5 linked regions of the Homo sapiens genome follow. The protein of the gene in region 5 purifies or fractionates together with the protein of the main gene of each other region. This does not show direct contact. Each region holds a gene or a part of one and is shown on either strand. Other genes may lie near its edges.

The links.
Region 1: the proteins of ALX3 (region 5) and P3H4 purify together in Homo sapiens (affinity purification with mass spectrometry; 2 studies listed by BioGRID and IntAct, with this or other methods). This does not show direct contact.
Region 2: the proteins of ALX3 (region 5) and PRKAR2B purify together in Homo sapiens (affinity purification with mass spectrometry; 2 studies listed by BioGRID and IntAct, with this or other methods). This does not show direct contact.
Region 3: the proteins of ALX3 (region 5) and SUPT16H purify together in Homo sapiens (affinity purification with mass spectrometry; 2 studies listed by BioGRID and IntAct, with this or other methods). This does not show direct contact.
Region 4: the proteins of ALX3 (region 5) and XPC purify together in Homo sapiens (affinity purification with mass spectrometry; one large-scale study listed by BioGRID and IntAct). This does not show direct contact.

The regions. Positions count from the first base shown.
Region 1 is NC_000017.11:41,804,544-41,810,602, forward strand, and holds part of P3H4 (endoplasmic reticulum protein SC65 precursor), read right to left. Parts: intron 5,292-6,059; coding exon 5,163-5,291; intron 3,462-5,162; coding exon 3,316-3,461; intron 2,337-3,315; coding exon 2,253-2,336; intron 1-2,252. UniProt on the Homo sapiens protein: Part of a complex composed of PLOD1, P3H3 and P3H4 that catalyzes hydroxylation of lysine residues in collagen alpha chains and is required for normal assembly and cross-linking of collagen fibrils.
Region 2 is NC_000007.14:107,154,693-107,160,751, reverse strand, and holds part of PRKAR2B (cAMP-dependent protein kinase type II-beta regulatory subunit), read right to left. Parts: intron 3,769-6,059; coding exon 3,703-3,768; intron 3,567-3,702; coding exon 3,428-3,566; intron 1,304-3,427; coding exon 1,170-1,303; 3' UTR 1-1,169. UniProt on the Homo sapiens protein: Regulatory subunit of the cAMP-dependent protein kinases involved in cAMP signaling in cells. Type II regulatory chains mediate membrane association by binding to anchoring proteins, including the MAP2 kinase.
Region 3 is NC_000014.9:21,369,670-21,375,728, forward strand, and holds part of SUPT16H (FACT complex subunit SPT16), read right to left. Parts: intron 3,762-6,059; coding exon 3,669-3,761; intron 3,028-3,668; exon of another isoform or gene 2,800-3,027; intron 2,376-2,799; coding exon 2,205-2,375; intron 820-2,204; coding exon 667-819; intron 228-666; coding exon 81-227; intron 1-80. UniProt on the Homo sapiens protein: Component of the FACT complex, a general chromatin factor that acts to reorganize nucleosomes. The FACT complex is involved in multiple processes that require DNA as a template such as mRNA elongation, DNA replication and DNA repair.
Region 4 is NC_000003.12:14,162,543-14,168,601, reverse strand, and holds part of XPC (DNA repair protein complementing XP-C cells), read left to right. Parts: intron 1-221; coding exon 222-345; intron 346-1,348; coding exon 1,349-1,433; intron 1,434-3,016; coding exon 3,017-3,174; intron 3,175-3,668; coding exon 3,669-3,789; intron 3,790-6,059. UniProt on the Homo sapiens protein: Involved in global genome nucleotide excision repair (GG-NER) by acting as damage sensing and DNA-binding factor component of the XPC complex. Has only a low DNA repair activity by itself which is stimulated by RAD23B and RAD23A.
Region 5 is NC_000001.11:110,066,875-110,073,556, reverse strand, and holds the start of ALX3 (homeobox protein aristaless-like 3), read left to right. Parts: upstream 1-2,884; 5' UTR 2,885-2,944; coding exon 2,945-3,221; intron 3,222-6,682. UniProt on the Homo sapiens protein: Transcriptional regulator with a possible role in patterning of mesoderm during development.

The sequences.
Region 1 (6,059 bases), on a different chromosome or scaffold from region 5:
CTTGAACCTGGGAGGCGGAAGTTGCAATGAGCTGAGACTGCACCACTGCACTCCAGCCTGGATGACAGAGTGAGACTCGGCTGTCATTCACTGTGCACCTACCAGGTACTGGCTCTTTATCAAGTGCTTTACATACTTGATCTCAGCCAGGAGCGGTGGCTCACGCCTGTAAACCTAGCACTTTGGGAGGCCGAGGCAAGCGGACCACTTGAGGTCAGGAGTTTGAGACCAGCCTGGCCAACGTGGTGAAACCCTGTCTCTACTACAAATACAAAATAAAATTGGCTGGACATGGTGGCGCATGACTGTAATCCCAGCTACTCGGAGGCTGAGACAGGAGGATCTCTTCAACCCAAGAGGTGGAGGTTGCAGTGAGCAGAGATCGCACCACTGCACTCCAGCCTGGGTGACAGAGTGAGATTCTGTCTCCAAGAAAAAAAAAAGAAAAATGCATACTTGAGGCCGGGTGTGGTGGCTCACACCTGTAATCCCAGCACTCTGGGAGGCCGAGGTGGGTGGATCACAAGGTCAGGAGATCGAGACCATACGGGGTAACATAGTGAAACCCCATCTCTACTAAATATACAAAAAAAATTAGCCGGGCGTGGTGGCAGGCGCCTGTGGTCCCAGCTACTTGGGAGGCTGAGGTAGGAGAATGGCGTGAGAACCTGGGAGGCGGAGCTTGCAGTGAGCTGAGATCACGCCACTGCACTCCAGCATGGGCGACAGAGCGAGACTCTGTCTCAAAAACAAACAAACAAAAAAACATACTTGATCTCACTTAATTCTTTCTCTTTTTTCGAGACAGAGTCTCAATCTGTCACCCAGGCTGGAGTACAGTGGCGCGATCTCGGCTCACTGCAACCTCTGCCTCTGGTTCAAGCCATTCTCCTGCCTCAGCCTCCCCAGTAGCTGGGATTACAGGTGCCCACCACCACACCTGAGTAATTTTTGTATTTTTAATAGAGACAGGGTTTCACTATGTTGGCCAGGCTCGTCTTGAACTCCTGATCTCAGGTGATCCCTCTGCCTCGGCCTCCCAAATTGCTGGGATTACAGGCATGAGCTACCATACCCGGCCAGATCTTGTGTTATTCTCACCACAACAATGTGAGATGGGCATGATTCTCCCCATTCAATGGATGAAGAAACAGAAGCTTGAGAGGTTGCCTGACACTTGTTTGGAGGCCACCCAACTGGTAAGTAATGGAGCCAGGTCTGGCTAGTTCCTCATCCTGGGTGCTGACGGTGTAGATTCTGCCCTCCTCCTCTGGGGTTGGATGGGTGGGGGCGTGGGGGCATGAACAAAGGAGAGGATACATAAATGAGCACTGAGCAGCAACACCTCAGAGAAATTAAGGCTGTCAAACCCTCACTTGAAATCAATGTTAATAGGGCCGGGTGCGGCTGCTCACGCCTGTAATCCCAGCACTTTGGGAGACCGAGGCAGATAGATCATGAGGTCACGAGGTCGAGACCAGCCTGACCAACACGGTGAAACACTGTCTCTACTAAAAATACAAAAATTAGCCAGGCGTGGTGGTGCACGCCTGTAATCCCAGCTACTCCGGAGGCTGAGGCAGGAGCATCGTGTGAACCCGGGAGGCAGAGGTTTCAGTGAGCTGAGATGACACCACTGCACTCCAGCCTGGGCGGCAGAGCGAGACTCCATCTCAAAAAAAAAAAATAAATAAATAAATAAAATAAATCAATGTAATACAATACGGTCCTTCTGTCCTGAGGTCCTGCATTCATTCATTCACTGGTTCATTCAAACTCAGTTTCTGAGCCCAGGCTCTGTGCAGGATGTGGGAGAACAGGGAATAATGTGGCCCTGTGTCCTGCAGTGCGGTTCTCCTGGATACTGGCTGGAGAAGGGGCCCAGGGCTGAGATGGACGAGGGCTGCAATCACCCAGGTCCAGGCCACAGGTGGCCAGGGAGGCACACAGGTCAGAGTGGGCACTGCTAGCCCAGAACAAAGAGCCAGGGCATGCAGCAAGGGCTTCCTGGAGGAGGCACCATGTGAGCTGGGCCTGGGAGGAACAGGATTGAGACATGTACAAAAGGAGGACATGAGAATACTAAGGCTGGGGAAGGAACGGACAGTCTAGACAAGGAACAGGCAAACCTCTCTTCTTCACGACAGCTGACCACCAGGGGCTGGGGCTGAATTCTGGCACACTGGTGGCCCCAGGAAAAGGTCCAAGGTGTCCCCATCACAGCCCAATCCTGGAAAGCAGGAGGCACTCACCTCATCATCTGACTGCAGGTACATGTGGGTGAACTCCAGCAGCTCCCGCAGCTCGGCGGTCTGGTTGTGGTAGAGCATGGCCTCCTGGAAGGAGGGAAGGACGGGGTGGGGGGTGAGCCATACCCTGTTGCCAGATGGCAAGAAGCCAGGGCTCCTAGGATCTGGGCCCACTGGCCCTCTTCTAGCTCAAGGATCAGAGAATAGGTATCAGCTCACAAGCTCATCAGATCATCGTGGCTGCTTGGAACACTGGGTTAAGGATTCTGAGAGTTTGGTGACAAAGAGTCCCTCAATCGATTAGCAATGTCTGCCACTGACAAGGAAGGCAGGAGTGGCACCATGTGCCCCATATTTGCCAGCCTGGCCCTCAACTCCAACAGATTTCCTCCATTGGTTACCTAGGGTGTTCCTGGGAAAGAGGGACAAAGGTCAGCAGTGAGGGTAATGAAGGTAGGGAGGGGAGCAGGTAGGAGTGGATGTGTACCTTCATACCTCCCTCGTCTGGACACTGCTGGTGAGGTGGCAGTATCACTGCCATTTTGCAGGTGAGGCAATAGATTAGGAAAGGGCCATGGTCTTCCCAGGACCACACAGCAGTGGGGCTGGGCTCTGAAGCCAGGACTCTAACCTCAACTCATATTCTTTCTTTCCATTTCCCATCCTGCCTTCCATGGAAGCCAGGAGTTTATTTTTTATTATTTATTTATTTATTTTTCTTTTGAGACGGAGTCTCGCTCTGTCACCCAGACTGGAGTGCAGTGGCGCGATCTCCGCTCACTGCAAGCTCTGCCTCCCAGGTTCACGCCATTCTCCTGCCTCAGCTTCCCGAGTAGTTGGTACTACAGGCGTCCACCACCATGCCTGGCTAATTTTTTTTTCTTTTCAGTAGAGACGGGGTTTCACCGTGTTAGCCAGGATGGTCCTGATCTCCTGACCTCGTGATCCACCCGCCTCAGCCTCCCAAAGTGCTGGGATTACAGGCATGAGCCACCGCGCCCGGCCGCCAGGAGTTCATTTTTTACAAAGTGCATATCCAGCAAGTGCCCCAGAAAGCAGTGCCCACCTCCCGGGGCTGGAAGTCCTCCTCTTCCAGGCCCCAGCGAGCCCGGTGGAACCGGTAATACACCAGGTTCTGCTGCATGACGCTGTCCTTGGGGTCGAAGAGCATGTAGCTGGCGGCGCTGCGGGCAGCCTGGCGCACATCATTCACTGCAGCAGGACAGGGGTGAGGAATTGCTCTGGCACTTCCCCTTCAGAGTCAACTCCATCTTCCAGTTCAGTCCAGCACCCCTGCTACCCAGCCACCTCCCAGAATACCTAATGGGCTCCTTATCCCACCCAAGCATAATGCCAGCTAGCATGTAGTGGGCACTTACCCTATGCCAGGCCCTGACTAACTCATCTAAGCCTCACTGTTATTGTCTTTTTATTGTTTTTGAAACAGGGTCTCACTCTATCACCCTGGCTAGAGTGCAGTGGTGCAATTATGGTCACCTCAAGCTTGATCTCCCAGGCTTAGGTGATCCTCTCACCTCAGCCTCCTGAGTAGCTGGGATTACAAGCAGGCACCACCACACCCATCTAATTTTTTGTATGTTTTTGTTTGTTTTGAGACAGGGTCTTGTTCTGTCACCCAGGTTGGAGTGCAGTGGTGTGATCTCGGCTCACTACAGCCTCTGCCTCCTGGGCTCAAGCAATCCTCCCACCTCAGTCTCCCCAGTAGCTGGGACTACAGGCACGCGCCACCATGCCTGGCTAACTTTTTGTATTTTTTGTAGACACGGGGTCTTGTCATGTTGCCCAGGTTGGTCTCGAACTCCTGGGCTCAAGCCATCTGCCTGCCTGGGCCTCCCAAAGTGCTGGGATTACAAGTGTGAACCACTGTGCCCAGCCATGCCTACCTATTACTGTCATCCCCATTTTACAGTCAAGAAATCTGAGTCACAGAGAGGTTAGATAAATTGCTCAAGCTCACACAGCTGGAGAATGATGGCTCTAGTGAATTAGAGGCCCTTAGCCTCTCTGCTATGTGTACCCAGGAAGGGTCTCCTGGCCCCTGGGTTCTCAGCCCCTCTGCTCTGACTCCTGGCTCTGTCTGAATCTTGGCATCTCCGAGCTGCAGGAACACTGGAGGCTGTCCATTCCAGCCCCAGTGGATGCCAGGATCTCTCCAGTGAGGAGAGCCACAAGTCCTGGTGCCACTTTTTATTAGTCATAAGACCAACAGCCCCTTGCCCTATAAGCCTCAGTTTCCCCATCTGAAAAATCGGTCCAGTAATGCCAGCTGCATGGTGTTGGTGAAAGGACCACATAAGATAAAGTGACTTATAAACTCTCAAGTGTTGGCCGGTCATGGTGGCTCATGCCTATAATCCCAGCACTTTGGGAGGCTGAGGCAGTGGATCACCTGAGGTCAGGAGTTCAAGACCAGCCTGGCCAACATGGTGAAACCCCGTCTCTACTAAAAATACAAAAACTAGCTGGGTGTGGTGGCAGGCACCTATAATCCCAGCTACTCAGGAGGCTAAGAGAATCACTTGAATCCGGGAGGCAGCGGTTGCAGTGAGCCGAGATCGTGCCCCTGCACTCTAGCCTGGGCAAGAGTGAAACTCCGTTTCAAAAATAAAAATAAACTGTCAAGTGCTCTGCAGTTGTTGGTTGTCTAGTCATTTGCCCAAAAGACCCTCTTCTTCTCCCTGAGGCTGCTGTCTGTTCTCACTCAGAAGCCTCTCACCTGCCCCAGACTCCCAGGGTGCCTTCCCCATATTCCCACCACCCCTAGACTTTCCTCCTATCACCCAGGGTCCTCAATACTGAAGGAAAGCTCCCCACAACTCTGGGAGGCTCCCATACAGTCCTCTCCCTTATCACCTCGTCCCCTGCCCAAGCCAGCCCACCCAGGGGGCTCACACTTATAGTAGGCAAACTGCAGGTAGTGGTACATGGTGGCCACGAACTTGTCCACGAAGTAGCCACCCACATTGGGGGTCAAATTGGCCTCACAGTCCACCTTGCACTGCAGGGACTCTGCAAAGAGATCTGAGGGTGGGAGGCAGCAGTGAGAGGCTGGCATTGCAATGAACATCTCCGTCCCCCCAGTGGAGAAGACTCTAAATCCAATCTCTGCCTACTAAGCCAAGCTGCTTGTCCAGAAAATGTGTTGCTGTTGCAATCACAGGAGAGAATGTCTGTAAAGTGCTTGGCATACTATATGACAAGTGATGGTGAGGAAGATGACTGTGGGCTGGGCTGACTCACCACCCCTGCCACTCAACCACCACCCCAAGCCAGAGGGAGCCAGGGCATTCTGGGAGAGCAGCAGGTGAGGTCCAGAAATGGGGCAGAAGTCCAAACAGAGAAGCTAAAGGACAGTCTTTTTTTTTTTTTTTTTTTTTTGAGACAGAGTCTCGCCCTGTCGACCAGGCTGGAGTGCAGTGGCGCGATCTGGGCTCAATGCAACCTCCGCCTCCCAGGTTCAAGCGATTCTCCTGCCTCAGCCTCCCGAGTAGCTGGGATTACAGGTGCCCGCCACCACGACCAGCTAATTTTTGTACTTTCAGTAGAGACGGGGTTTCACCATGTTGGTCAGGCTGGTCTTGAACTCCTGACCTCGTGATCTGCCTGCCTCGGCCTCCCAGAGTGCTGAGATTACAGGTGTGAGCCACCACACCTGGCCAAGTACAGTCCTTTCTGCCCCTGCTCGAGGGACCCCAGGGTTAGAGATCCCAAGACTAGGTGTAATTTCTGGTTATCAACTGCTTTCTGCACACATCTGCTGGGTTACTTCTCACCGCTGCACCTTTGCAT
Region 2 (6,059 bases), on a different chromosome or scaffold from region 5:
TAATGGTATATATGGTAAGGTCAGAAATTCATTTTGTCTTTATATAGGGTTATGCTCATAAAAATTTGTTTCTATTCCTCTAGAGGATGTTTTTAAGAATTAAAAAAACCAAACAAACCCATATTGGCTGCTGATCAATGAGATTGTGGGTTGGCAACCATCCTAAGAAAGAACGGAAACCCAAGGGAACAGATGTCTACATAGGACTGTATTATGCAGGCCTAGTGAAGAACAAAGAAATAAACTGTGGGCATGCTGATAAGGATCCCACATTATTTTTGGGATAGGAGAGATTTTTTAGGTGTAAAATCTTAAAGAATACAAAAAATGTCGGATCTTAAGTTTAAATCACTTTTTAAAAAAACAAAACTTTGTGACATTAAATGTCAAGATCAAATTTTTAAAGACATAGAATACAGAGAATTGCAAAATAAAAAAAAGCAGATATATGCTTGATGAGGGAAAAATGCATTAATGATCTCTCATCTAAAACACTGTTTTCCTTATTATCATAATGACTAAATTGCCTGTCCATAAAACCACTGGAATATGTATGTTACTGACATTATGCCAACAAAGTCAAAATGTACTTTATTGCAAAAATATAAAAAGTTTTAAAACTGCATATGATATTTTATACCATTTCACCAATAGGCCAAGGCCAGCACATAACTTATCAAGCTAGAAAACTTTAAAACAAAAATGATTAAAATTTTACTGTGTTTAATGAGTTATAAAAAAAAGTGATGCCATGCTGTGTAGCATGTTTAATTGCCAAGTGCCCTCTTACATGGGGATAGTCACTAATATGATTATCAGTCTGAATAAGTAAAACACATATAGCCTATGATAACATCCTTTAATTATCTTCTTAAACACAGATACTTTCTATATATTACAATCATTTTAATAAACCTTTCAGTCATAATTTTGTGGAGTACAAAGTCATTTTATCAGTATGTTGATTTTTTTATGAACTACTCTTTAGAAAGTGATGTTAAAGCCTATTGACTATTAAATCACTACTGTTTATTGATACGTTGTAAATGTAAAAAAAGGAAAAAACCTGAAATCACAGAAAATGCTTGGCATCTACACAAACACATTCTCAGTGGACTAACCACTACTGTGTAATTTTGTCACTACAGGTCTTGCTCCATACTTTTGCTTCATGCAGTGGGTTCAACAATATCCATGTTCGTTCCAAACAGGGCAACTAACTGTTCTTCATAGGTAGCGATGTTCCTTTTCATAATTTCCATGCAAGGTCCCAGAAGCCTTTCAAATGCTTGCACATCCATTGCTGAGAAAAGAGAAGATTTTTTTTTAAATAACATTCTTTGCAAATCTGCAGAATTTCTAAGTCATTTACAATACCGACTCCATATATATCAATAGTGCAATGATATTTTAGGTAAATACTATAAAATACAAGAAAAAGCATAATGATAAAAATGTTCCACTTGAAAAAGGAAGCAGCCAGGGCCACGCTCTTGGACCACACTCTGCAGTCCCTCGGCAATATGATGAGCAATGCTAAGTTGGTGGGAGGTTCCTGGTCCAAGCTGAGAAAAGAATGAGGGACTATCATGGAAAGACCTTAGAATTTTAAAAAATAAATGTGCTGTCTCCACCTTAGCAATGTGAACTCCTCAAGGGTGGCACAAGAGTGTTTTCTATCCTGTGTTCCCTTCTCAGGGTTTAAAATGCCATGTTGTGAAGGCCAAGTGTTAACCTTTTGTAAGTTTTGCTGCCATACTATGTCTATGCAATCCAAAAATGGCAGCTGACATAATGCTTTTGTTTACTTCTATAAGTACATGCTAGAAATCACTTTGCTTGCCTGTCTCCTGGATTTTAAAACTGGATTTATAATATATAAATAGAAAATATGATCATACTCTATACATAAAAGTACAAATTAAAATAGATCTTCTTTGCCTTTTACACTAAAGATAAAAAGATAAAAAAGGCAATGTTTACAAGAATAGGGTGAATGGGCATTATGGCACTGCTAGTAGTGTACAAATACAAGTAATCTGGCAATATGTGTCAAAAGTTAATTTTTTAAAAACCCACTCCTGAAAACCATTTCTAAGGAAAACTCCTATAATACAGAAAAGTCTTCTATGCACAAAAAATTGCTCCCCACAAAAAAGTTGGAGCCAAAACCTTCGAAGTATTTACCACTAAGGAATGATTAATTTATCGTGTATATATTTACCTAAAAGAATTTTAAAATTTGGTGTAATAAAATAAGAACATTCCTAAGCGATAATGAACTTTAAAAGTTGTTTGGAAAACTGTTTAACAACTGGAAGCCCACACAAATAAAAAGGACAAGAAGGAATTATAATAGCAGAAATCACTGAGTGGCGGTGTTATGTTTTTTCTACATTTTCTGTATTTCTCAGGTTTTCTTTGATGTGAGTATAATAATCTATTATTGAAAAAAAATTAACAGACTTTCACTCACTCACCTTTACTCTTTCTAATAGACTTTCACTCACTCACCTTTACTGTAATAGACTTTCACTCACTCACCTTTACTATTTCTAATAGACTTTCACTCACTCACCTTTACTCTTTCTAATAGCCCTACTTAGGGAAATTACCTGCCAGTTTCTAATCGTCTTCTCTTCCATCCAAATTTAACACTTGATTAATATTATACTTATTTAAACCCTTTTAAAGAATGACTTCTCTAAGAAGTTAATTCTAAGGATCCTTGCAAATCTTAAAAACATTAAGTTTATGCTATTGAATTATGGATGAAAAGCACAGAGAGGGTAATAACTGTGAGATCAATTTTCTTAAAATACCCTCCATATTGCCACCTTCTAAACTGTATTTTCTTATCAAAGTAAGTGATTTCTCAGATATATAATCTCAGATATATACAGATGCCTGCACCTGAAGATGACATTTCTGCCAAGCTACTCTGGTAAAATAGTAATAACAACTGAACAGCAAAGAACATTTGACTGTGCTTTGACAAACCTGAACCTTTGTGTCCCAATACTGTAATGAGTAAGGATTCTCACAACATCTCAGCATTCCCCGCAGATCTTAATAACGGACTTTATAAAAATAGTACTTTAGCCTTCTCTTTTGAGGAACATAGCACATGTTGCTTATTTGAGAGATTCCATATAAAACGTGGTACTTGGAACTCTTATTTTAATGACTAATATGGGATGTTATTTCATATATACACAAGAAGAGCAAAATGTATCTGGATGTAAAAATTTCGAAGAAAAAATGGCTTCCACAAATTGATTTTATAAGGCAATGAGTCCTAATCTTGTTACCTTTTGTGGGGACCACAAAACCTGTGAACCCAATAAAATGATTCACTCAACATGAATACATAAAATGCAGACATAAGTTCAACCAGCAGAAGCACGCCCACTGTTGCAATCCCTACCTAAACATTTGACAGTCCCAATGGCGTGGGCAGAAGCTGCTCGAGGTTTGTTAGTTACCAGGGCAAGCTCTCCAAAGTACTGTCCCCGCGAGCATCGAGCGATTTCTACTGCACCATTCTCTTCCACTTCTGATTTACCCTGACAAGGCAATTAAAAAGATGAGCTTTTCCTCAGCTTATGAAAAATAAAATTAACCTCAGTCTAAACATCAAAAAGTAGATCTGTTGTGTTCCTTGCTAACAGTATGTGGGTTCTGAGGACTTAGAATGCTTACCTTTCTTTTCATAGTAATTTTCACTTCTCCAGATTCTACAATGAAAAAAGAATCAGCCGAATCTCCCTATTGGAATCAATAACAAAAACAGACGGTGAAAATGCAAATTAATTGACAACAATCTTGTTACCTTTCATATCCCTAAAATTGATCCAACCCCAAAGTACACATATTCACCTGAAAAGTGAAATCCTAAGGGAACAAGCTGTCTCGGTTTCTAAATCAAGAGGTTTTTTTTTTTTTTGAGACGGAGTCTCACTCTGTTGCCCAGACTGGAATGCAGTGGCGCGATCTCGGCTCACTACAAGCTCCACCTCCCGGGTTCACACCATTCTCCTGCCTCAGCCTCCTGGGTGGCTGGGACTACAGGCGTCTGCCACCACGCCCGGCTAATTTATTTGTATTTTTAGTAGAGACGGGGTTTCAACGTGTTAGCCAGGATGGTCTTGATCTCCTGACCTCGAGATCTGCCTGCGTCGGCCTCCCAAAGTGCTGGGATTACAGGCGTGAGCCACCGAGCCCGGCCCTAAATGAAGAGGTTTTGATGGACAATTATGTAGTAATGATTTCATTTGTAAAATTATTTGAAATAATACTTTCTTTTTCCCCCCCAAGATGGAGTCTCGCTCTGTCACCCAGGCTGGAGTGCAGTGGTGCAATCTCAGCTCACTGCAGCCTCCACCTCCTGGATTCAGGCGACTCTCCCACCTCACCCTCCCAAGTAGCTGGGATTACAGGCATGTGCTACCACACCCAGCTAATTTTTTTTTCCTTTTTTTAAAATTTTACTTTAAATCAGGGATACATGTGGAGAACATGCAGGTTTGTTACACAGGTATACATGTGCCATGGAGGTTTGCTATACCTATCAACCTGTCTGGTTTTAAGCCCCGCATGCATTAGGTATCTGTCCTAATACTCTCCCTACCTTCACTCCCCACCCCCTGACAGGCCCCGGTGTGTGATGTTCCCCTCCCTGTGTCCATGTGTTCTTATTGTTCAACTCCCACTTATGAGTGAGAACATTCGGTGTTTAGTTTTCTACTCCTGTGTTAGTCTGCTGAGAATGATGGCTTCCAGCTTCATCCATGTCCTGCAAAGGACATTATCTCATTCTTTTTTATGGCTGCATAGTACTCCATGGTATATATGTACCACGTTTTCTTTATCCAGTCTATCACTGATGGGCATTTGGGTTGGTTCCATGTCTTTGTTATTGTAAATAGTGCTGCAATAAACATATGTGTGCATGTGTCTTTATAGCAGAATGATTTATATTCCTTTGGGTATATACCCAGTAATGGGTTTTCTGGGTCAAATGGTATTTCTGCCATTAAAAAGTGGGCAAAGGATATGAACGGACACTTCTCAAAAGAATCAAAAGAAGATATTTATGCAGCCAAAAAAAAAATGAAAAAAAGATCATTACTGATCATTAGAGAAATGCAAATCAAAACCATAATGAGAAACCATCTCACGCCAGTCAGAATGGCAATTATTAAAAAGTCAAGCAACGATAGATGCTGGTGAGGTTGTGGAGAAATAGGAATGCTTTTGCACTGTTGGTGGGAATGTAGATTGGTTCAACCATTTTGGAGGACAGTGTAGCAATTCCTCAGGGATCTAGAACCCGTATTTATTTATTTTTTTGTATTTTTATTAGAGATGGGGTTTCACCATGTTGGCCAGGCTGGTCTCGAACTCCTGACCTTGAAGTGATCTACCTGCCTCAGCCTCCCAAAGTGCTGGGATTACAGGCGTGAGCCACTGTGCCTGGCCTTGAAATAATATATTCTCTACCACTGTATTTCTGCTAAAAAACCAAGAAAATGTGGCAACACTGGGGTAAGAATTTCACCCAAATTTCAGCCTAGATAACAGCATACATAGTTGGAAATGGCAACACTGCTGTGTATGCCAGCAGCGTCCCCTTAGTTGGCAGAAACATGTCTGCGGATCCTGTGCTCCTGAGGAAGTGCCGAGACATGCACCCTGCGTCATCCTAACATCGCAAGCATTGGTGTGGTGACCCAAGATAAGCCATCAACTTGCAAAGAGCAGAAAGCATCCAGATGGAGCCGGAAGCAGCAGATGTGGGCCTTGACATTTTCACTACAGTCAACTGAGGACCAAACTCTGACATGCTAGCCTACTGACATTCCATTTCAAGGCTTTGGAAGGACTTCTAAAAGAAAAGTGTTGCTCTACCCATATACCTGTTCTTTCTTGCTTTTGTTTCTTAATGAACTCTGCCTTGATCTCCAATGATGCAGTCTGAATTAAACAATACAATATGGAAGATAATAATACAGACACTGACTTCTCTAAGCCTCTCAAAGTGATTCTGGAGAAACTTA
Region 3 (6,059 bases), on a different chromosome or scaffold from region 5:
AGAACACACCAACAGATTTGCATGGTAGACTTATTACTGCTTCATTAAAACAGTAAAAAGACCCTCTCATCTCCATTTACCTCATCTGCATCAACTATTTCCATGACTCTTTCCTTGAAGAATTTGTTGAAGACTTCAGAAGTGATGCTGGCTGCTTTCTTCATTAGGTTGAGCTCCCCATCCTCCTTTACAGCGATGGTATATGCCACAACTGCACTGATATCTATCTGCAGTCAAAGTGACAAGAGTTTCTAACATGCAAGTACAGAATTACAAAATAAATGCATCTCTCCAATTTGAATATTACCAGTGATATTTCTGTTATTTAGCAAACTATCACTGGTTTGCAGAATATTCAAACATTCTCTTCTTGAACTGAATAAACATTTGAAATAGCTCTTTGCCAGGTCATTGTGTGTACTACAAGAGGTGTTAAGCTAATGTACCACTTAAAATGTAAACTGCCCTCTAGACGTTTTTTGTAAAGGCAGATAGAAGAAAGGCAGGGAAAAAAAATAAAACTGGCACACTGCTCAGCCAAAGGGGATAAAATGTAAACAAACATACAGTTTTCCCAAAACAAACGTCCTGCACTATCTGTTATGGAAGCCCATCACATTTCTGTCTTCTCAACTCTTGATTTGCTATTTCCAGTAGTATTCTTACTTTGTCAAAGCCTTCTTTGTTGAGGCAGTCATTCCAGCTCTTCATGAACTCTCCAGGGAATTTGTCTTTGCTGAACACTCCAATCTTCTTGCCATTCTTGCTTTCTTTAATGGCTTCAATCATTTTGTCAAAGCTACTCTTATTACTTTCATTCTGTCAGTGTCATAGGGAAGAAAAGACACATATGTTTTACCAGTTCATTAGACACGTTTTACCAGTAACAGGTAGAATAATATTCTAAACTACGGAAAAAATTAATTCTCCTCCCATCCCCACCTACTTTTTACTTTTAAAGAGACAGGGTCTTGTTCTACTACCCCCAGGGTAGAGCACAGTGGTGTGATCACAGCTTACTGCAACCTCGAACTCCCAAGTTCAAGCAATCCTCCTGCCTCGGCCTCCCAAGTAGCTGGGACTACAGGTTCATACCACCATGCCTGGATAAATTTTTTTTTTTTTTTGAGACAGACTTGCTCTGTTGCCAGGCTGGAGTGCAGCGGCGCAATCTACACTCACTGCAACCTCAGCCTCCCGGGTTCAAGTGATTCTCATGCCTCAGCCTCCCGAGCAGCTGGGATTACAGGTGTGTGACAACATGCCCGGCTAATTTTTTATATTTTTAGTAGAGATGGGGTTTTGTTATCTTGCCCAGGATGGTCTTGAACTCCAGACCTCAAGTGATCCACTGCACCCAGCCTTCCTGAATAATTTTTGTATTTTTTGTAGAGATGGGGTTTTGTCATGTTGCCCAGGCTCATCTGGAACTCCTGCGCTCAAGTGCTCGCCTCGGCCTCTCAAAGTATTGGGATTACAGCCATGAGCCACCATGCCTGGCCTACCTGTAAGATGCCTTCCCATCTTTAAGGAAGATTGTAATATATCAAAAGTGAGCAAAACATTTCTTTAGATATTTTTATATACTCAGGTGAAAGTGCTGCCGTAAGTTGACCAGACTATTCCTTTTTTTAAGAGAAGGGGTCTCACGTTGCCCAGGCTGGTCTCAAACACCTGGGCTCAAGCAATCCTCCCATCTCAGCCTCCTGAGCAGCTGGGACTACGGGTGTGTGCCACCACGTCTGATACAACTATCCTTTTTCTTCAGAAACAGTTAAGAAACTCAAACACATAAGTGAACAATATTCTGAGAAAACATCCCATGTTAGGTGGGCAGTATGACAAAAAAAATTCACATTTGATAAAAACTGGAAATGATGTATATCTAAGTTTCCTTAAGGATATTTAAGGTTATTTGCTCTAATCAAGGCATACAGATGAAAACAAACTAACAGTGTCCTCAAGAATGGAGACATAAAATCAGTGTTCACCAGAATTTCATAGCTCATTTGTTTTACAGCAGAACTGATAGGATTATTGAATTCTTTTCCTCCTAACAATGAAGACGTGACAGAACTTTGTAATTACAACCACAGCCACCTATAATTTCCCCTGCGCATTCTTTCAAACTCCTATAAGGCATTTCTGTTCATCCCTTTTGAAGATTCTTCCACATTTATGACACATTCTTTATTAATCCTGACCTTTTCTCGTATTAGCAGTGTGATGGCAGGGGCTCCATTAGCATTCTCATTGCCCTTAGTGTTGGCAATCTGTTTCAAGAACTCCACTTTTTTCTTGCTGGCCATAAAGATGATTTTGTCATCACAAAAGACCATGATAGTATCAGTTAGTTCATAACCAAAGAGCCATGTCTATGGAAAAAGACAACAGTGACAACGGTATTTACAGATACAAAAATTAATGGACTCATATAGATATACAGAAATACTTATAGACAAAAATAACATGTCTGAAATTAACTCCAAGGTAATCAGGCTGGGGAGTCTGGAGTGGATACAAATTAAGCAAGATCGGCCAAGAGTCGACAATTTATTAGAACAGGACAATGGGGTTCAATGTATTATTTTCTCTACGTTTATATGCTTGAACTTTCTATAATTAAAACCATCAAATCAGTTAAACGATTTGTGTTTATAGGAAGTATATCAATGTTTAGTGATACAGAAATGCATAAAACAAGGGACAGAGTGATACAGAACCCTGCGTTATTACCTCCTCAATTACCAGTTCCCTACCAATTATTCATTTCTCCTTCTCAAAGAACTGATATTTTACCTTCCTTTCAGGTAAGTATGGTCATTAGGATCAAATTTTGGCCAATAGGTAAAAAATGGTAGTGTGTGGAGCTTCAAGCAAGTCTTCTTAAAAAGAAAAGGTGGCCTCCTGTTTTCTTCTCTGTCTCTTTTTGCTTGGAATGTAGATGAAACACCTGGAGTTCTAGAAGCCATTCTGTACCACGTGCAAGAGGGCTATGTTCTTTGGGTGGCAGAACAGAGAACTGGAAAAAGCCTGGGTCCCTGAAGACTATACATAAGGAAAAGAATATTTTGTTTAACTCACTGTTACTTAGGTTTTTGTGTTATAGCAGCTAAATCCATACTGATATTAATACTTCTTTTTCCTTATGTCTTAAATCACTGCTAAATCCAATTGAACTTTATGTGATGGTGAAAATACCATTTATCTGCTCTGTCCAATATGGGGTAGCCACTGCTGAGTACCAGAAACACAGCTGATGGGACTGAGAAATTGAAATTTTTTAAAGTAAGAGACAGGGTCTCACTGTGTTGCCCAGGCTGGAGTGCAATGGTGCAATCTTGGCTTACTGCAACCTCTACCTCCTGGGGTCATGCCATCCTCCCATCTCAGCCTCCTGAGTAGCTGGGACTACAGGTGCACACCCCCACATCTGCTTAATTTTTTTGTATTTCTTGTAAAGACAGGGTTTTGCCATGTTGTCCAGGCTGGTCTTGAACTCCTGGGCTCAAGCAATCCACCTGCCTCGGCCTCCCAAAGTGCTGGGATTACAGGCATGAGCCACCGCAGCCAGCCAGGAATTTAAGTTTTAATGTGGCTACCATACTGAACAGTGCAGTAGATAATCCAACAACTCTAAGAGCTAAAAATTGCTGTAAATCTCTCACCTGTAAGGCAGTTGATTTGGCATAAACAATTTCTTCATCAACACCCACTGATACAACAATGGCATCAACGTTGGCATACTCATCTTCTCCTTTCTGAAAAGAGTGGGTAATCATCACTTAATTTTTCACACTAGCAAAACAGGAATACAGCCTTCAATATTTATCTAGGACAGGCATAATTTTCTCCTGATAGAAATTTCAAGTTTAAGGTACATGCCTGTTTGGCAGTCTTACGGCTATTCTATTTTTTGTTTTTACAGTACTTGCTAATTGTTGATAAATATCAAGAGAAATTTTTCCTTAGCCCCCAGATCTATGTTTCATAGTTCAGGAACACAGATCAGTGACAAACGTCCTGTGTAATTCAAAGAAATATTTTATTTTTTAAAATTTTATTACTTATTTTTGAGATGGAGTTTGACTCTTGTTGCCCAGGCTGGAATGCAATGGTGCAATCTCGGCTCACTGCAACCTCCGCCTCCTGGGTTCAAGCAATTCTCCTGCCTCAGCCTCCCCAGTAGCTAGGATTACAGGTGCCCACCACCACACCTGGCTAATTTTTTTATTTTCAGTAGAGACAGGGTTTCACTATGTGGGTCAGGCTGGTCTCGAACTCCTAACTTCAGGTGATCCACCTGCTTCGGTCTCCCAAAGTGCTGGAATTACAGGCATAAGCCACCATGCCTGGGCCAAACTAATTTTTTATATTCCAAAATCATCTTGCACTCTCAAAGATAAGCCACCTTCATCTTAGAATCTTTCAAGGAGTCATAATTTATGCAGAAATCTACATATGCCTTCTTTTTTGGTTCAGCCACAGAAATTTTAATAGAGAGATGTAACCCCAGGGCAAAATGAACACTTCAACAACATGAAATCACAGATGCCTGGCCAGAAGGCCACATATCTGAGGTTTCATGAAAGCACTGGAAGCCATGGTAGTTTTTGTCCTTGTAGGTTTTGTCAACCTCAATACCAATGTCCTTTCTGGCTGATGGAGAGACGGGAGTTCTTTATTTTTTAAAAAAGTTTTATTGAGACAGAATTCACATAAAATTCAAAAGCATACAATGTAATGATTTTTAGCAGAATTATGCAACCATCACAATTTTGGAACATTTTAATCTCTATGTCCTTGAGTACAATCATTCCCCAACTCCCCTATCTCCATCTCAGCCCTAGACAAACCACTAACCTGTCTCTATGGATTTGTCTATTCTGGACAATTCATATACATGGAATCAAATAAAATGTGGCCTTTGTGTCTGGCTTCTTTCACTTGTTTTCAAGGCTCATCTGTGTTGTGACACGTATCAACACTTCATTCCCTTTTACTGCTGAATATTTCATTGTGTAGATATACCACATTTTATCTATCCATTCATCAGCTGCAGGACACTTGGGTTTTCACTTTCTGGCTATTGTAAAAAATGTTGCCATGAACATTTGAATATGTTTTGTATGGACATTTCTCTTGGGTATACATATACCTAGGAGATGAACTGCTGGGTCATATGGTAACTTTTCGAGGAATCATCAGACTGTTTGTCACCATGACTGCACTAGTCACTATTTCACATTCCTAAGAATGTATCAAGGTTCCAATTTTTCCACGTTAACCAACAGTTTTTATGTCGTTTTGATGACAGCCATATAATGAGTGTAAATTAGTATCCTGCTTTTTTTTTTCTTTTGAGACAGAGTCTCGCTCTATCACCCAGGCTGGAGTGCAGTGGTGCAAACTTGGCTCACTGCAACCTCCGCCTCCTAGGTTCAAGCGATTCTTGTGCCTCAGCCTCCCAAGTAGCGGGACTTCAGGTATGCACCACCACGCCCAGCTAATTTTTATATTTCTTAGTAGAGACGAGGTTTCACCATGTTGGCCAGGCTGGTCTTGAACTCCTGACCTCAAGTGATCCGCCCCCACTTGGCCTCCTGAAGTGCTGGGATTACAGGCATGAGCCACCACGCCCGGCCCTCACTGTAGTTTTGATTTCATTTCTCTGATAGCTAATGACGCTGAGCATCATTTCATATGTTTACTGACAACTGTATGCCTCTTGGAGAAATGCCTGTTCAGATCCTCTGCCATTTTGTAGCTGAGTTGTTGCTTTATTATTGAGCTGTAAGAGTTTTCATATTCTAGACACAGGATCTGCAGACATTTTCTCCCATTCTGTGCATTTTATTTTCACTTTCTTGATAGTGTCCTTTGAAGCACCAAAGTTTCTAATTTTGAAGTGGTACAATTTATCTATTTTCTTTTTTATTTTGGAGACAGAGTCTCACTCTATCCCCCAGGCTGGAGTGCAGTGGCACGATCTCGGCTCACTGCAACCTCCGTCTCCTGGGTTCAAGCAATTCTCGTGCTTCAGCATCCCAAGTAGTTGG
Region 4 (6,059 bases), on a different chromosome or scaffold from region 5:
GGTTGTGTGGGTTAAATGAGACACACGAATATATAACACTCAGCACACTGCCCGGCACATGGTAGGACTCAGGGCAAGGCATGTCTAGGGGTCTCTGTGGGCTGTCTCCCTCACATTCATGCCTCACTTCCTCCTTCCCAGCAGAACCTTGATTCTGTTCAGTACAGTAGCTATTATTATTGTTATTACTATTACTGATTTTTAAAAATGCTTGTTGATAGAACTTAGTGAGCCTGTGCTGGGTGACGTGAGAGAAAGTACAGCCTTCTCTCGATCTCTTCTGCCTGTGAAGCCAGTGGAGATAGAGATTGAAACGCCAGAGCAGGCGAAGACAAGAGAAAGAAGGTAAGCTTAGGCCCTTGCTTCTAGGCTCCTGTCACATGCAGTAGGCAACAGCTGCTGCTTAGGAGGACTTTGGAGAAACTTGTAGGGGACCAGGACTGAGTATCAAAGTGGTCGAGAACCTTGGGTCAGGAACCTGATTTACCTTTAGAGACTTGAATGAGACACCTTCGTGTCCTGGCTGGGGCTGGTGAGGGATGAGGAGAGGGAACTCCTGTGTGCCAAGGATTGAGCAGGTCATCCGTTATCTTACCTAATCCTTAGAACAGTGTTGTGAATGAGGAGCTAAGTAACGTTCAGACGCTAAGTAACGTTTCAAGAGTCACTCAGCCAGTAATGGAAGAGCTGAGACCTAATCCTTCTCATTGACTTGGCATTCACATTTTCCTCACCATGTCATGCTGCAGGACTTGAGGCAGTGCCCGCCGTGGTAGGGAGCCCCTATCCTTCCCAGCATCCCGGAGTACCTCTGCAGCCTCTGATGGCTTGGGAATTCCAATGTGCGATGGGCACATTACTAGGCACAGAAGAGGGAGATAATACAAATCATTCAAGAAGTGTCAAGTTGTCTTGAAGATTAATGGGATACAGACTGAAAAAGAGATTTTACACTAGAACAGTGTCACATAAATGATGGTGTGTTAATTTAACATTAATAAAGGTAATGGTTGCTAAGGAGAGAGTCAGTAGTCGGAAGAGTTGGACAGCCAGAGAAGACTTCCTGGAAGAAGTGAGCTTTGAGGCATGTAGGTGAGGTGTGATCTGCTGCTGGTTGAGAGGAGGGTTGTCTGGGTACAGAATGTCCCAGGCCGAGGTTTGCTGGTGAGAAGGAGCCAAAGAGCCTGCAGGAAATAGCTGGCTTGCAGACGGACTTGAGTAGCACAGCCTTGTGTAGGGAAACAGGGAGAGTGATTCACTGTCATCCGAGGAGAAGGAATTGCCTGGGGGAGTGGAGTCTGGTTTCAGTTCCCCCCTTCATTCCCAGATTTTTCACTATTTGTTGCAGTGAAAAGATAAAACTGGAGTTTGAGACATATCTTCGGAGGGCGATGAAACGTTTCAATAAAGGGGTCCATGAGGACACACACAAGGTAAGGGCAAGGAATGATGGGGAAGGACTTTTCCTTGTCGGTGCAAAGAGCTTGTGCTCACCGAGGCTTTATTTCTGGCTTTGCTGCTCTGTGGCCATGGCAAGTTTCTTACTCTCTCTGAGCCTTTGCATCCTCATCTGGGAGGTGGGGGTAGTAATAGTGTCTGTCTTGGAGGGTGGTTGTGTATTATAGGTAAGGTAACTTGCAGCACAATGCCTGGCATGCAGCAGAGGCTAAATAAAGAGCACTTGCCTTCCATCTCTCCTTTCAGCCATTTAATGTCATTAATTCTAATCCCAGCTGCAGGCACTGGCTTTTGACTTTAGCTGACAGTTATTGAACACTTGCACACACCTAGCAAGGTGCTTGGCATGGTGGGGATAGAGACTTGGATAAAGCTTATTTCCTACAATTGAGGAGTATCTGATCTCTAGATGGAACAAGGACTTCCAAACAGAGAAACTCAAGGCTATGCCTGGAACAGTGAAAGAGATCAGCGTGGCTCTGTGGAGCTGGGGAAGGCTTTATGTAGGGGAAAGGATTAGAGCCAGGTCTAGGAGAAAAAGTTGAAGACTCTAGCCAAGTTGTGGAGGGGACGGCGAGGTGCCCAGCTCACCTGCGTGTGTGGAGTATGTAGGTGTTGGGGGGTGGGGGTGAAGGGAGGGTGGGCTTTGGTTTCCCTTTGATGGATGGTGGGCTGCCTGAGAGGATAGTGATGGGATGGGTGAGTTGCTTTGTGTGCAGCTACTGCAGAAATCTAGAGGTGCAAGGATGGTGACGAGGTTAGAGAGGGGTCGCCTCCCTCACCCAGGCCTGGGGCACGAAACGAGACAGCTGTGTGCCTTTCACCTCTTGTTGGGTGCTGGAGGTGAAAGAAAGGGAAGATGACTCTCAGGTTTGAGGCCTGAGTGAGGAGAGAGAGGCAGCACTATTGATTAAAATAGGGAGGCTGTTAGTCGGGGGGGAGGAAGCCAATGTTGAAGGGAAAATGACACAAAGCAGTATGTGAAAAGAGGTGAAGAGGTCATATAATCATTTCAGTAGGTGGATGAAGGGTGGGTTTTGGGGTCAGAGGAAGGGCAAAGATGTGGAGCCTGTGACAGAGAAGGTTGGGCTCAAACACCCAGAGAGGTGGCGAGAGCAGCCCAGTGAGCCCAGTGGGGTGCATCCCGCCGGCTTCCACAGGCTTCCAGCAGTCTCTCCAGCTCCACTCCACTTGCCTTTTCTTCTGATCTCGTGGAGCAAACCCCAGACATGGCAGCATTTCATCCAGAAATCTTTCAGTATGTATCTCTGAAAGACAAGACCAAAACAAAAACAGTTTGTATTTTGAAAACAAAGCAATTTGTATTTTGAAGCTTTGAGGTTTGATGATTCCTTTGAAGGAATGAGTATACAGAGAGAAAAAGAGAGGGTCAAAGACAAGCTTGGGAAGTGGCCAATGCTAGTGTTTTTACTTTCTTATATGTAGAAATGGCAACACATATTTCTTGTCCACAGCATGTCTTGACTTTGGCAGCAAAAATTCCTCCTGGTGTCCGGCCTTCCTTCCATGCTGCCCCTTCCTCCTTTCCTCTTCACAGGTTCACCTTCTCTGCCTGCTAGCAAATGGCTTCTATCGAAATAACATCTGCAGCCAGCCAGATCTGCATGCTATTGGCCTGTCCATCATCCCAGCCCGCTTTACCAGAGTGCTGCCTCGAGATGTGGACACCTACTACCTCTCAAACCTGGTGAAGTGGTAAGGCCCTCCGCTTGTCCTGCAGAGCTGGGGAGTGTAGGATTTGTGTTTCTCTCAGAGGCTGGGTTCAGGTCACTTCCACAGACCTTCCCTGAGGCGGTAACTATGTATCAGGTGGTGGGCATGGCATTGAAGATAGAGAAATGCCAGGTATGATCTTGCCCTGGTAGAGCTGCCAGACTGGTGGGGAGACAAATACATACCAGGTAATTACAGGATGGCATGAGGAGTGCCCTGGAAGGGGTGTTCTGGGGACTGCAGGCTCACATAGCAGGGGCGCTTTTCTCAGCTGGGAGGTCTGGGAAGGCTCCCCAAGGAGGTAAAGTCTGAGCTGGGTCTGCAGTGATGATAGGAGTTAGCTAGACGGGCTGGGGAAAGTAGGACAGAGGCAGGCGGGTCTCACGATTCACTCCCTCTTTTTATTTTCTTGGCTGGAAATGAAAATTCCCCTTTGCCCTGACCTCTGACACAAGGAATGCCTGCTTTCTCCCCAGGTTCATTGGAACATTTACAGTTAATGCAGAACTTTCAGCCAGTGAACAAGATAACCTGCAGACTACATTGGAAAGGAGATTTGCTATTTACTCTGCTCGAGATGATGAGGAATTGGTCCATGTAAGTGATCCTCCCGGATCACTGTTTTTTATCAGTACTGTTAACTAATGATAATGGCAGCCATGTGCCAGATGCCATTCCAGGTGTGTTACCGACACTACCTTATTCAGTCCTCATAATGACGTTGATAGCTGCTGAAGCCCAGAATAGCTACATGATGCCTCTAAGGTCTTTTCCTTGGTGAGCCTGAGAATCGAGATTGGGATCAGAGTCTGAGTGGAGGGCCTGTATGCTTTCCTCCCTATCGCCTCTAGTTGTGGTGTACCAAAAAGCCCGTAGTTTTTGGTCAGATGTGCTAGAAATATTTTCATTAATTTTTCCAATTTTGTCTTCAGAAGTCCCAAGGAAATGTTTTTTCAAATTGGATGCTGAAGTCCTTGAGAATGTGTTTTTGTATCTCACATTTGGGTGTTGACACTGGCAGGCAGCAGTGCAGTGAGGAGGGTTCTGTCCATAAAAAGGAATCGTGATGGCAGAGTGCTCCAGGGACAGGCAGGCTTTATCAAATGCCTACAGGCACCTGTAGGTAAGGCTCTGTCTGAATAAAACAAAAACAGAGATGGAAATGTGGTTTTATCCCTAGAAGATTCCTATTAATCCATACAGTTCAATCTGGGAGTCCCAGATTCTCTGGAGAAAAAGATGGTTGACATCTTTAGTTCTCTTCTTCCGTGTTGGCTTTAACAAGTCTAAGATATTTGGCAAGGCTGATAATTATGTTATAATGTGCTGCCAATTTTTTTGTTTGTTTGTTTTTGTTTTTTGAGACAGAGTCTCTCTCTGCCGCCTAGGCTGGAGTGCAGTGGTGCAATCTCAGCTCACTGCAACCTCCACCTCCTGGGTTCAAGTGATTCTCATGCCTCAGCCTCGCGAGTAGCTGGGATTACAGGTGCCCACCACCATGCCTGGCTGATTTTTGTATTTTTAGTAGAGATGGGGTTTCACCCTTCACCCTGTTGGCCAGGCTGGTAACTCATTAATATTTTAGTATTGTCCTCCCAGACTTTGTTCCTGTGTATGTGTGTACGTATGTATTTGTTTTGTTTATTTGTTTAAGCAAAATAGGATCACACAGCTTTTAAAGAGGGGGTACAATTCAGTGACCATTTAGTACATTTACAATGTTGTGCAACTACCACCTCTATTTCCAAAATGTTTTTGTCACCCCCAAGGGAAACCCTGTATATACGCATTAAACTCCTCATTGTTACCCCCCTGTCCCTGCTCGTGGCAACCACCAATCTGTCTTGTGTCTCTGTGGATTTACCTATTTAGGATATTTAGTATAAAAGAAATTATACACTATGTGGCCTTTTCTGCCTGTCTTTTGCTTAGTATAATGTTTTCAAGATTCATCTGCATTTTAGCATGTATCAGTATTTCATTAATATTTATAGCTGAATAATATTCCATTACATGTTTATACATTTTCTCTATCCATTTATCCATTGGCAGACATTTAGTTAGTTTCCACCTTGTGGCTGTTGTGAAGAGTGTTGTTAATAATGTCTATACATATATTTATTTACATACCCTGTTTTCTGTTCTTTTGGGTATATACCTAGGATTGAAATTGCTAGGTCATATGTATATTCTATATGTAATTTTTGGAGAAACCACCAAACTGTTTTCTGCAGTTACTGTACCATTTTACATTGCCACCAGCAATGAACGAGGATTCCAAATCTTTACCAACACTTGGTTATTTTCTGATGTTTTGATTATAGTCATTATGATGGGTGTCAAGTGATACCTCATTGTGGTTTTGATAGCATTTCTCCAATGACATGATGATGAGTGTCTTTTCATGGGCTTCTTGGTCATTTGTGTATCTTTTTTGAGGACATGTCTGTTCAAGTATTTGCCTATTTTTTAATTATGTTGCCTTTTTGTTGATGATTTGTAAGAGCTCCTTGTATATTCTGGATATTAGTTACCTATCAGATACATGCTTTCCACATGGTTTCTCCCATTTTGTAGGTTGCCTTTTTACTTTCTTGATGAAGTCCTTTGATACCCAAAAGTTTTGAATTTTGACAAAGTCCAAGTTACCTATTTTTCTTTTGTTCTTTTTGCTTTTGGTGTCGTATCTAAGATTCCATTGTCAAATCCAAGGTCATAAAGATCGACCCCTGTGTTTTCTTGTAAGAGATTTATAGTTACTGCTCTTACATACGTTGTGAGTTAATATTTGCATATATCAGGTAGGTGTTCAATATCATTCTTATGCATGTGGATATCCATTTGTCCCAGCATTATTTGTTGAAGAG
Region 5 (6,682 bases):
TGAGTGTAAATTCTGGTTCTGGCACTAACTGGCTGTGTCTACCTGAACAAATGGCTCCCTCCTGGCCTCAGGCTCCTTCTCTAGAAAACAGGGTACCTATTTCACAGAGCTGTGAAGATTAAATAAACCAATCTTAGACAGGCATGGTGGCACATGCCTGTAATCCCAGCTATTCGGGAGGCTGAGGCAGGAGAATCACTTGAACCTGGGAGGTGGAGGTTGCAGTGAGCTGAGATCATGGCCACTGTGCTCCACCCTGGGCAACTGAGTGAGACTCTATCTAAAAAAAATAAAATAAAATAAAAATTAATAAACCAATGTACGTAGAATACATGAGCTAGCACCCAGCACACTGTAGGTATACGTAAGTGTTAGCTGTTGTTTTTACCTATAATATGAGGGCCTTTGTGACACTCCATGATCTCCCAGCCCCCCTAAGAAGGAAAATTTATTAACTCTGAGATTGCTGTTTTTGAGGTTTCTATGCACCTGCTCCATCAAACTCTTTCCGGACCACATACAGATAGATAAAAGTTTACACAAACGGCTTAAAAGACAAGTGGAAAAGTCTCCTCCCCGTGTGCTGATTTGTGTGGTTCTGGAAGAAAACTCTCCCAGGAAGGTCAACTCCACTTACCCACAAAACTCTCATGTAATCTAGGGTTTTCTCTCTCCTCAGTTTAATTGGTAACACCATCCCAGTATGGAAATTGGCTCTGTTCAGAGAGTGGGAGAATGTCAAGAGAAATTTCTGGGCTTGAAAGTGGATGCAGGTCCCTGTGTCTCTCTGCTCAGCTCCAGCCTTAGGCCCATTCACTCTGAAGTCAGGAGCCTTTCACCTATTCAGTGATGGAACCCACTGGAGATGGTAATCACCATCATCATCAGCATCTATTAAATTAACACAGTGCATCAAAACACGAATGCTTTGCAAATACCCTACTTCCATGTGTGGCCCACCTTTCTGATGAGGAAACTGAGGCTCAGCAAGGTTGTCATGGGAGGCAGAAGACTCAGCCTTTGATCCAGGCTGCCTTGTTTAAATTGTTGGTGACATTTTCCTGGGTGATATTTTCATCCTCCATAGTAAACTTCTTGATAACTGTTGAATAGAATAGGTATCCTAAATTGATGTCCTCCTAGAAAGTCAACAATATCCAATTTCGCAGGTATGGGGAAGAGAGAAAAGAAAACAATATCCAATCAACAACTATTGAAAAACCTTATTAATGGGCAAAGGTGATCGGTTCAAATTGGTTGCCCAGAGCTGGATCCACTAGATCCTGGAGAAAGGATCCCTCTGGTGAGGCCAGAAGGGAAGCTTAATTTCAAGCCGAGCCTCCCTCTTGACTAGAAATACCAGCCCCAGGTGCTCCCATCTCTCTGGCCAGTCTGCATTCCGTGATTAGGGGCCCTAATGGCCATAATGCCTCCAAGGTGGTGTTGAAACCAATAAGTCTTCAGAGAAGTTATGGTATGTTTAATAACGGCTTAATGACTCCTTGTGAGATGCAAGGCTTCTGGTTCCTGTTTGGTCTTGATTTACAGCCCAACTCTGGCTGAGGAGCCAAGAAACCCCTTCTAAGCCCCCAGCGGAAGAGGGAGGTGTTCACACCAGGCCTCTTGGATTCCTTTAAAAATTGAGAATTCAAATGAAATACAAATGATGTTTGACTCCCCACCTCTCTTGCTAGTCTCCGGGGGCATTGATAATAAAAACAGTTTAACGCAGCCCCACGGGCTCCTCAATCCATGGGAAGTGAGCAGGGTCCTCGGGTCCTTGGGTATTTCTCCCCAGATCTTAGGTAGGGTGGTGGTTATTTCTCTTTTCTGAAATTCTAAGCTACTGCTCTAATCCTGTCTCCTTTTGGTTGGGGAGACTCAGCTCTTAGAAGATGCAGTTCTACCCTCATCCCTTCTGAATCGTCAGGCCTGGGGGAGCACAGCCCTGAGGTCCGAGCTGCAGACAGTCTCTCCAGTGGGTCCCCAGACACTTGGGTCATCTGCCCACTGAAACGCATTCACTCCAAGCTGCTGCCAGAGGAAACACCAGCCCTTCTGCTCATCCTCCACCTGTTCCAAAGGCTGCCCCTGCAGGACACTGTTCAGTCCTGAGCTGCCCATGGGAGTCTCCCTGTCTGCTCTGGCCCTGTCTCTACTTCTGAAACACACCTCAAATACATAGAAAGACCCAGGGTTGGCTTGGCCCGACCTCCACAGTCAGATGAGGACACTAATGATTGGCGCAAGGAACCATAGCTAATTAATGATAGTGTCCAGGTCCAAGCTCCCCAGCACCCCATTCCCAGCTTAGATCTGCTTCCACACAACACTCCCAATAGCTCCTTTCACTGTGAGAAACAAGAGATCTCTAAGGGAGGTGTTTTTTGCTGAGGCAACATTTTGTCCAGCTCCTAGCGGAGACCTAAGTAAAACTGCAGCCTAAGGCCTGCCTGTCTGCCCGCCCAGGCCCTCATCCCAGGCTGATGTCCAGAGTCCAGGCCCAAAAGTGTTTGGGGGGGATGCCCACACGGCCTCACCCCTCTAGGGGCAAGTGCCTCTAGGCTGGATATCAGGACCACGGGTGCTGCTCTGAGCAAGAGACTCACCTGGATGGGTAGACAAAGGGATCCTGCCCTAGAGAGGAAGCTGCTTCATCCTCTCCTGAGCTGCCTGGGACTGGGCTCTGGGTGAATGGGGGGAGGGGGTTCCCGGGCTCCGAGGGGTTAACCCGCACGGGGCCACACGTGACGTGGATGGTTCCAGCATTAAGTCAGAGGCGCGGCCCCCTCCCCTGCCCCCCGCCCCCCGCCCCCCGCGGCGCGCGCCGCTCCCGGGGGCTCCGCGCCCCCGCGCCCAGGTCCCTCCCCCTTGGCGGGCGCTCACAGGCGGCGCGGGCAGCGCGAGCCCCGGAGCCCCGGAGGCCTGTGCGCCCTGAGCCGGCATGGACCCCGAGCACTGCGCGCCTTTCCGCGTGGGGCCTGCACCCGGCCCCTATGTGGCCTCGGGGGACGAGCCTCCGGGCCCGCAGGGAACCCCCGCCGCTGCGCCTCACCTGCACCCCGCGCCGCCCCGCGGCCCGCGGCTGACCCGCTTTCCGGCCTGCGGGCCCCTGGAGCCCTACCTCCCAGAGCCGGCCAAGCCGCCCGCCAAGTACCTGCAGGACCTCGGGCCCGGCCCGGCCCTCAACGGCGGCCACTTCTACGAGGGCCCCGCGGAAGGTAACGCGCGGCGCGGGGCGTAGCGCGCAGCCCGACCCTCTCTTCTTCTTCCTTACCCGGGCCCACCCGGGCCTTCCTGCTTATCTCTCCCGCTCGCCTATTTCTCAACTTTTTGCCCCTCTCGCCTTTCGCCACGGCTTCCACGGAAGCCGGGTTGGCGCTGGCCCGGGCCAGGCAAAGGCCAGTGTGGGGCGGGAGGGTGAACCACCGTTCCTCGGCGGCGGGAATGGAAGGCGGGAGGTCGAGGGAAGGTGCAGTGGCGACGGCCCGGAGTCCAGTCGGGGCCCGAAAGCAGTTGGACCTGGGAAGGAGAGAGCATGCTCTGCCGAAGTTGGACTGGAACTGCCACCTACCCTGAAGCCCAGACCCGGCCGAGGGCTGTGGAGCCACACTGAGACCTGACGAAGAAGCGCGGCTTTTGTGTCTGGCGCCCTTTGAGGGCCCTGAGGCTGGGCCTCAACCTAGAGTGGTCAAATCGGGGTCGGCTGGGGACTGCGGCCTGGTCTTGGCCCGTCTCTCCTCCCCGGGCCTAGCCTTCACAGGAAGGGTGCTGCCTGTGCGGCAGACTGGCACAGTCTGGCCGCGACTGGTCGTGCAATGCCAGGGCTGTCCTCAAGACGGAATAACTGTATTCTTATTTCTCATACTAAGCTGGCCTCCCTGCCGTTATGCACTATGATAGCCGCCCTTCTGGCAGTCTTGGCTTCCCCGCGCTGGATCATCACCGCTGGGCAGTCAGGAGCAGCCCTGGGCAGCCTAACCCCCTGGCGCCGCGGGCTCACGGGCCGGTGCCCTGTGCTAAGGCCGGCTGGACCGCGCCGGCATCCGAGAATGCGCCTGAAGGCAGGGGCCTGGCAGGCTGATCGGCAGCTCTGCGGCCGTCCGCCGCACCCTATGACCTGTAAGGCGTCTCGGCTTCCGCACTGCACCCACCTTATCTGCGCTGCCATATCCCGCAGCCTAGGCCCAGAACTGGATCCTCCAAGATCCGCCTCAACCCCCTGCCGCCGCCCGGCTGGCGCCTCGCGGGCCTCCACGGAGTGGCCGGGCATCTCCGGCTTTCGCCCAGCCGGGGCGGTGGGAATGTGTAGGGGAGGGCGGGGAGGTGTGTGTGGGTCAACGGAGGAAATGAACGAGTCCGCGGAGCTTCGTGTCTGTGCCCTTTGAAAGAGGCTTTCCTGATAAAAACCACAGTTGGGACTTAATGAGAAGCAGTTGGCCTGGCTCCTCTGATCCCAGCCAGACGGCAGAGGCCGCGCAGTGCGGTGAGCACCGCCAGAGACAGGTACCCGGCCTGGCTCAGCGCTCCGCGTCGGGCAGGAGCCACCCCCCCAGGCCCGCGTCCCTGCTAGGCGCGCCGCATCCGGCACCGACAGCTCGGGCCCCCGGACCACACCGGTGCCGCGCGAACTGCAGAGAGCGCTGGTGCGGAACGAGCGGCCGGGAGAAACCCAGCACCCCGGGATCCGACGGCAAGGGTGGCCTTGACAACGAAATACCGAGAAAGAAAACCAAAGAAAGCGAGCGACAACCAAGAAAAGGGGAAGGGAAATTGAACAAAACAACGGAGAGCGCGGCGAGAACGAGAGGGTAAATGGCAGTCGGCGAGCTGGGATGAACTAAAATGAATAAATGAGGAACGAACGAATAAAAAAAGCAGGAGCAAGATCGAACGAAACGGATAACTAGAGAAGGGGGAAAGGACAAAGAGGGAGGGAGCAGACTAAACAAAAGAAAACGGAGCATGTTTAAAGCGTAGAATATATCAAAATGAGAACAAGGGGGTAAGAAAATTAACGATTTCAGTTGAACGGAGGACAGGCCAAACGAAAGGGAGGCAGGCGGGTGCGAGCAGAGCCTGGTAGAGATCCTGGCGGCCGCTAGCCTCTGGCGCTCTTGCCGGTGTTCAACGGGCTGCCAGCGTCCCTGCGGCAGAGCGGACCTCGGCGCAGCGCGGCGCGCGGTGGAGCCTGGCTGCTTGAGGACAGTCAGCCCCCAGGGCCGCACAGCCTACTTGGTGGGAAGTGGCGGGCGAAGAGGGAACCCGCCTTATTTCCCGGTTTTTAAAATAACCGGCTCGGAGCGTTTCCAGTCCACACGAGTGAGCGCGCAGCTGCGCCCCATCTGCGGCGCGATCTTTCACGAGGCTGGGCAGTTGCGCGCCCCAGAGCCTGGCGCACCTCGCTCTTCTCCCGCCTGCAGTCCGCCGCCCGCGCAGCCCCAGGCCGCCCTTTGCTGAGAGCGCCCAGCCTTGCTCTGAACCCAGGCTGCGTGCTGGCGCTGCCAGCCACTCTCGCGCCGTCCGCGCTTGGCTAGTCTGTCCCGAGTTTGGCTCTGACGTCGAAACACGCCCTCGGCAAGAGACTCCTACTAGAGTTTTGCCCGCTGCCGCTGAGGCCCTGAGCCGGATGACCCGGCCGATCGCCAAAGTCGAGGAGAGTCCCAAGTTCTTAGACCCGGGCTGAGGCTTCTGGGCCAACGCTGAGAACCCCCAAGAAGGGCACCGAGGCCTCACCGGGGTCCTGCCCACGGCGTTTATGTCCACTCTGGCTTTGAGTCTTCGGCGGGAGCTGCAGGAGCCTGGGCCTCAGCGAGTTCTGCAGGTCGCTTAGTGACCCCACAGTGGCCGGAGGAAACAGTGCGGCGCGGGACAAGGCTGCAGCGAAATGTGAAAGCCAAGGCTGGTCCCGCGGTCTCAATGGATGCCTTCTGTGGGGACAGTGGAGCACTCGGGCCTGCTGCGGCGCTGCTTCCTGGCTGCACAGTGGCTTAGAAGCAGCCGCTGGTAGGGGCTCTGGCACTCCTCCGGGTGAGGGGTGCTCAGGGTACGGCAGGCCTGAGAGCTGGGTCAGGGACAGAGAGCTCCTTTACTACGTTAAAAGGCTCCTGGCTTTCACGCCCAACAGCTGCTGCTGTGGCCCTGCGGTTATGCAGGCAGAAGACACCCCAGCGTTGTCTCAGGCTGTCTCCAACATGAGTACCCCGCCTTAACCACCTAGTGTCCGGATCAGGTGCAGTGACTCCTCTGCACAATCCATACACACCTCAGATGTGCCCCGTGCTCAGCAGAGCAGCCCTCACTCCTTTACAAGCTTAGGTTCAAGCTGCTGGCTGCTATTCCTGGCCTGTCTTTCCTGGCTTCTGCCTTCCATTTGTCCCAGTTCTATCCCTTTCCTCTTCTGGGCCTTGCTCCTCAGGAGGCTGCTCTGTGTTCTCTGAGGAGTGCCCCTCTCCCAAAGTGGAGGGATGCCACCCTCCCTCTGGTGTTCTCCAGGTAGATCAAGGAGGTTTCAGGGCAATGACAATGAGGAGAGCAGTTCCGTGGTCCCTTGAGAGGGCTGTAGACTGGGCAGGCATGGGAGTTGGGCATAGGTCAGCAGGCTTAGCCTCTTCTTTGGGGAAGCTGCTCTGAGAAGTCCTACTGCACTTTCATCCCTTGTCCCTGGCAGCTTGGTGGCTCA